Linked DNA regions of Homo sapiens. The protein of the gene in region 1 purifies or fractionates together with the protein of each later gene. This does not show direct contact. Each region holds a gene or a part of one and is shown on either strand. Other genes may lie near its edges.

Region 1 (3,652 bases):
TGCCTCGGCCTCCAAGTAGCTGGGATCATAGGCGCGTGCCACCATGCCCAACTAATTTTTTGTATTTTCAATAGAGACGGGGTTTCTCCATGTTACCCAGGCTAGTCTCAAACTCCTAGCCTCAAGTGATCCGCCCACCTCGGCCTCCCAAAGTGCTGGGATTACAAGTGTGAGCTGCCACACCCGGCCTATTGGTTTTTTAGAGAATTGTATAATAGTGTATCATAGTAGTTTTGTTCAGTCAACACAGCTGGAAAACTTGAGAGAAGCCTTCGTCTGTCTGATGTGTTAACAGATATTCCTCCAGAGCAGGTAGTCCTAGCCTGGAAAGGTGCCTGAGTAAGAGTATCACCTACTCAATGTTACCTTGGTAAGTGATTGACAAGGAAGACTCCAAGGGAACAAGAGGGTAAGGCAGGGAAACAAGTTGATAATCATTTGTGGTGACTTATTCCAGATAAGAATGGCTGAAGGCAGCTGTGGTCCAATGGGAACGGTCTTAGGGTTTGGAGGTCAGAAGGTGTAGGTTTGGGTTCTACCTCTGCCACTTGTTAGCTAAGTAATGTTAAATCACCTACCTTGGTTTCTTGGCTGTAAAATGAAAATTATAAAATAGTATAAAATAGTAATATTTTATACTATTATTTTTTACTATTTATAGTAATTATTTTTATACTATTATTGTACACTTATGTGTCAGGTACTGTTTTAAACACATTGCATAACAGGTTATTCCTCATAGCAACCCTATATATTGTGATATTATTATATATATTTTTAAGTTTTATTATTATTATTATTATTATTACTTTTAGAGATGGGGTCTTGCTACGTTGCCCAGGCTGGTCTTGAACTCCTGGGCTCAAGCAGTCCTCCCGCCTTGGCTTCCCAAAGTGCTGGGATTACAGGCATGAGCCACCTTGCCCAGCTGATACTATAATGCCTGTTTTGCAGATAAGGAAACTGAAGCTCAGAGAGGTTAAGTAACTTATGCAGGATCACAGCGAGTATGTAGTGAAGCTACTTTTGAAACCCAAAGTATCTCAGTTATGCTGTACTACCTCTCTTGAGGATAATGATGCTCAAAAAAGTGCTTTGCGAATTGTAAAACACCTACCAATAGTGACTAAAATACGTGAGGATATTCAGACAGTACACAGATAACAAATTAAGGAGACAATGGTGGGGCCAGGGGAAGAGGAACTCTCCCAGATATGCTTTAAGGCAGATCCTCTGAAGAGAGACCCTCTTAAGGAAATAATATATTTTCTTTAGAATTCTCTAATATTTATTATAGAACTACTGTGTTCAAGACTCTATAAGGTCGGGCGCGGTGGCTCATGCCTATAATACCAGCACTTTGGGAGGCCGAGGCGGGCAGATCACTTGAGGTCAGAAGTTCAAGACCAGCCTGGCCAACATGATGAAACCTTGTCTCTACTAAAAATACAAAAATTAGTGGGTGTGGTAGCGTGCTTCTGTAGTCCCAGCTACTCAGGAGGCCGAGACAGGAGAATCTCTTGAACCCAGGAGGTAGAGGTTGCAGTGAGCTGAGATCTCGCCACTGTACTCCAGCCTGGGCAATAGAGCAAGACTCTGTCTCAAAAAAATAAATAAGTAAATAAAGACCCTGTGGCAGGCACCACCTCATTATATCTCATCTAATCCTTTTCCCTGTTTTGGGATTTTTCAAAAAATTCTCTTAGAAAACCAAATGGTACTTAGAAAACCAAAACCAAGTTACTACCTCCCTAAAAGATAGGTAGTCTAACAATTATATCTTGCTGTATTGCTGTATGGTTTGAGGTTTTGTTGATGTGTCTTAGCATGGGATGATAAACTGAACTTCAGTGGAACTTGTTTTAAAGAAGTTACTGTATTTGTACCTTGCAGGCATAAAGGATTACAAATTTGAGAGATTTTATGTGGCCCTTTTAAAATGGCTTTGACTTGTTTTATTTTTTTGCGTGTCCTGGCCTGTTGTGGGGCATTTTAAAAAGTTAATTGAATTGGCCGGGTGGGGTGGCTCATGCCTGTAATCCTAGCACTTTGGAAGGCTAAGGCAGGCGGATCACTTGAGGTAAAGAGTTTGAGACCAGCCTGGCCAACATGGTGAAACCCCATCTGTACCAAAAATATATAAAAATTAACTGGGTGTGGTGGTGTGCGCCTGTAATCCCAGCTACTTGGGAGGCTGAGGCAGGAGAATTGCTTGAACCGAGAGGCGGAGGTTGCAGTGAGCCGAGATCATGCCACTGCACTCCAGCCTGGGCGACAGTTCAAGACTCCGTCTCAAAAAAAAAAAAAAAAAAAAGGCTTAATGAGTTAATTGACTTTTGCTGGAAGGCCAACTGATGTAGTAAAAATGGCCTGGGCTTTCCAGTGGTCATAGGTTCCAATCCCAATTCTGCCACTGTTGTAACTCAGTGACCTTGAGGAAGTTACGTTGTGACTTTGGTTTAATAATTTGTAGAAGGGGATTAGTAATAGCTTATTGGATTATCCTAAGGAATATGTAAGATTATATATTAAATTTCCTAGCGTGGTGCCAGCCTCAAAGGAGCTCTGCTCTGGATTGAGCCAAAGCTGTTTTCAGCAACTGTGTTGTATGGGGGCACATAAACGCAGTTGTATGCTTTTTCAAGAACCAATAAGAAGCAATAAAGAGATAATTGGAGGTGTGATTTTCCCTCCACAGGGCTGTGCTTAAGAGTAAAACTTCAGCGATGTTTACCATTTAAACATAAGGTAAGAAAGATGTATTTTTGTTGTTGTTGTTGTTGTAAAACAGCTTTGTTGAGATATAATTCACATACCACACAATTCACGTATTTAAAGTGTACCAATTCAGTGGTTTTTGCTTGTCTGTTACTCAGTTGATGGACATTTAGGTTGTTTCTACTTTTTGTCTATTATGAGTAATGCTGCTATGAACATTCATGTATAAGTTTTTGTGTAGGCATATATTTTCATTTCTTTTCCACCTGTGAGTGGAATCGCCCGGTCCTATGGTAACTCTGTGTTTAACATTTTGAGGAATTGTTTGTTTTCCACAGTGGCTGCACCATTCTGCGTTCCCACTTCTCCACATCCTTGCTAACATTTATTATTATCTTTGATTACAGGCATTCTAGTGGGTGTGAAGTGATGGTTTTTTGTTTTTGTTTTTTGAATCAGAGTCTCACTGTCACCCAGGCTGGAGTTCAGTGGCGCCATCTCAGCTTACTGCAACCTCTGCCTCTCAGGTTCAAGCGATTCTCCTGCCTCAGCCTCCCGAGTAGCTGGGACTACAGGTGCCCACCACCACGCCCAGCTAATTTTTTGTATTTTTAGTAGAGACGGGGTTTCACCATATTGGTCAGGCTGGTCTTGAACTCCTGACCTCATGATCCACCCGCCTCGGCCTCTCAAAGTGCTGGGATTACAGGCATGAGCCACTGTGCCTGGCCTTGTTTTTGTTTTTGAGACAAAGTCTTGCCCTGTCGCCAGGCTGGAGTGCAGTGGTGCAATCTCGGCTCACTGCAACCTCCGCCTCCAGGGTTCAAGCGATTCTCGTGCTTCAGCCTCCCAGGCAGTTTGGATTATAGGCATGTACCACCATTCCCGGCTAATTTTTTTTTATTTTTAGTAGAGACAGGGTTTCACCATGTTG
Region 2 (3,652 bases), on another chromosome or scaffold:
AAACCATCAATATCTAAATCAAGTCTCCGTTTAACTTTCTCAAAACTGTTATCCAAAAATTGTTCATTTCCACAGGACACCATAGGTGTGTCCATCTGCTGTCTCGTATTCTGGTTTTGCATCAATAAAGGAGAAGGGTTTTTTACATCATAAGACTTATTCAGTTCTGTTTGCAAACTGCAGTTTTTCTCTAACATACTGGCTGGCTTGAGTCCACTCACAGTTCCAAAGTTTGGACTTGCTATACACTGACTGCTGGCATATGGTTCATGCAGCTTTGGCATCGCAGCACAGGTACTGTTCATTATGTGTGCGCCTCTCTCATCGGATGTTAACTGACCTTCCACAGTAACAAGTCCATGAGTAACTTTATTTTCTAAATGATTTCCTGAAGATTGACATACCTGATTTGATTTACCTAAAACCACATCTTCTTTGACTTCAGATGTATTTTTGCCCACATAAACCTTGCTTGAACAAACTCCCGCTAAATCAGTTGGTAACTTTGGCATAATTTCGGGCACATTTGTGTTTTCATCAGTATCTTGAATAATTAAGTCCATTGCCTGTTCTTTTCCTTTAGGGCTTAATTCACAGGCATTTATTGGGTTATTTATAAGTATATGACACGCTGATGATGTCCTGGAACGTCTTCGGTGCATTTTAGGACTCATACTTGGCTCTGGACTAGGTAATTTGGCATATGAACCTGTAAGACTTTTGATAACATTATTTTCGGTAACAAAAGTGGGAATAACTTTAAAATCAGAATTAGACTCTAGAACAGTGGGATGGCCAGTTCGTATAGGTATGTCCACTTTCGAAAAGCTAGCTAAAACTGGCATACTCATGCTGCTTGCTTGAGTGGAAGCACCTTGGAGAAGAACATTTGATTTATTAAGGCTTGGTTTGTCAGGAATAACTGAGACACAGTGTTTGCCTGTCAACTGGCCTTTCTCTTTTACACAGTCAGCCACTTCAACAGCATCATGTTCTTTGTCTAAATGACTCTCATTAACAATTCTGTTGATACTACCTCTCAGACTGCGTCTAGATTGTTCTCTTTCTATATATTCCTTTGACTTTTTCATCAGATTCTGAAGACTCATTACATAGGGATCTGGGATGACTTCTGCCAAAAGTGGTAGATCCTGTTGTTCATTTACTGAGAAGGGACCATCAGAAATAAGAGTTTCTTGTGGGGTTGCTGAAGAGGTCTTTGGAAAAGCTTCATTTTCTACATGACTAATATTGGAACTATCACATTGCTTCGGAGAATTAAATCCTTCTGAATCTCTAGCTAAGTCTATTCCATCAGTTTTACATTGGTCCTCATTATCCAATGGCAAAATCCCAGCTATCTTATCAAGCTTTGCTGCAGTAGAGTGTTCCGTATGGCTTGGAAAGCTATTTGGAAATGTAGCAGGAACATTCAAGTTTCTGACTTCTGAATTAGAGTAAACTGTTTCCATCTCCCACTGATCAAAATCACTGGCATTAGGTGCTTTTCTAACCTGAAACAGGAAATTTAAAAATTAATATTTCCTCATTGCACAAAAAGTCTCTGATTTCACTGTTTTCTAAAATAAAATTGAAATTGAAAATTCAGAATTCTGACATTTCAAAACATAAAGAAAAACTAAGATGACAGGTTTCTACGGTATCCTGTATCACAGGGGGCTCAAATTATTATTGAAAAGATGCCTACTGGTCATCCTGCCTAAGTTATTAAAAGAGTTATAAAAGAGTTATAAAAAGAAACATCTAATCTGATACAAATATGAACATATATATGTGTATACACACACACATATATTCATATATCCATGTGCAATTTAATCTTAGAATACAAGCACTTAAATTTCTTCTAGTCATATGTTATTAACATTACCAACTGTTCCTCCTAGGATAGCTATCATCCAAGGATAATAATATATGCAATAAACAGCAAGTAATGAAATGTCTTACGTAAACGATTCCCTCTCTAACAAAGACTAACTTGTCCAGGACATTGATTAAGCAAAAATGATTCAGTAATAAGACTCCTGCACCTACATGCTTACTCCAAAGTTTAACTAAACTTTGTCTCAAAAATGAATGAATGAATGAATGAATGAATGTAAAAATAGATATTTTGTATCTAAATAATCCAACTTTGCAAAAGAATAAAAAGAGAACTAGGATAGTTTCTAAAGGTAATTATACATCCGTATATTAAACTGGCAAAAATCATTGTATTATCATATGAATACAGACATCAAAAGCCTGACTACTGGCGGGGCATGGTGGCTCACGCCTGTAATCCCAGCACTTTGGGAGGCCGAGGCGGGCGGATCATGAGGTCAGGAGATCAAGATCATCCTGGCTAACACAGTGAAACTCCATCTCTACTAAAAATACAAAAAATTAGCTGGGCTTGGTGGTGGGCACCTGTAGTCCCAGCTACTCAGGAGGCTGAAGCAAGAGAATGGCATGAATCTGGGAGGCGGAGCTTGCAGTGAGCCAAGATCACGTCACTGCACTCCGGCCTGGGCGACAGAGCGCGACTCCATCTCAGAAAAAAAAAAAAAAAAAAAAAAAAGTCTGAATATTACAATATTTTTTGGTTGTTTTGAATGTGCTTGTTTTTTTCTAGACCACATGGCTCTCCTATTTTACGTTACAAATCCCAAGACAGGTAATGGTTTCCAGGTACTATGCAATACACAGTACAATAAGACATACTTAGTCACAACCTCAGAACCAAAATAAAACAAAAAAGATGCAAAAAGGTTTCCAGGTACTATGCAATCAACAGTACAAGAGTACAAGACATACTTAGTCACAGCCTCAGGACCAAAATAAAACAAAAAGGATGCATATTTATGAAATCCATGAACATGTTCACAGGTTTAAGTAAAACAGATGATTTCCTTACGTAAAATATTTCACATTTGTGATATTCGGAAGCTATGTTGTTTATACGTCACTAAAATGAGCCTTTAGTTAGACAAGTTAAATAACAACAAGAAAAAAATCTATCATAGAATCTTAGGTTTTACAGGTGAAGCAGAAATCTAATTGTATTATATAAAATTTTCCTATCTGAATAATTAATTCATTACAGTTCAACATTATACATGCTCTTTTAACAATTTTATTAGTAGTATATTTTATCTTCCCTCAATGGACCAAGAATGATATGCCATTTTCATTTCAATCACAGGAAATACGTAGTAAGTAAAAAACCTACCTCTTATTGTTAAATTAGTGCTACTCAATACATTTTTTAAACTTAATATGGACAGTAATTATAATCTGCAAAATGAAATCTACTACCCACACACTATATACTACTGTGAAAGGGAAATAATATCTCAGGACCCCAAACTCAACTATGTCACATGAGAGTCACTATGACTCTCATTAACAATTCTCTTAATACTACCTCTCAGCCTGCGTCTAGATTGTTCTCTTTCTATATATTCCTTTGACTTTTTCATCAGATTCTGAAGACTCATTACATAGGGATTTCGAGTAACTGAAATGGAAAATCACATGTCAAAGGAAAAAGTAAAGCTTAGGAACTGAGTCACACAAAAACTGCCTTCCTTTTATTCCTAAACAGATAGCTGCAAAATAGAAGGCCACCTATCTACCCAGGTAGACTCTC

The links.
Region 2: the proteins of CIAO2A (region 1) and CCP110 purify together in Homo sapiens (affinity purification with mass spectrometry; one large-scale study listed by BioGRID and IntAct). This does not show direct contact.

The regions. Positions count from the first base shown.
Region 1 is NC_000015.10:64,080,198-64,083,849, reverse strand, and holds part of CIAO2A (cytosolic iron-sulfur assembly component 2A), read left to right. Parts: intron 1-2,698; coding exon 2,699-2,748; intron 2,749-3,652. UniProt on the Homo sapiens protein: Component of the cytosolic iron-sulfur protein assembly (CIA) complex, a multiprotein complex that mediates the incorporation of iron-sulfur cluster into extramitochondrial Fe/S proteins.
Region 2 is NC_000016.10:19,533,802-19,537,453, reverse strand, and holds part of CCP110 (centriolar coiled-coil protein of 110 kDa), read right to left. Parts: intron 1,515-3,652; coding exon 1-1,514.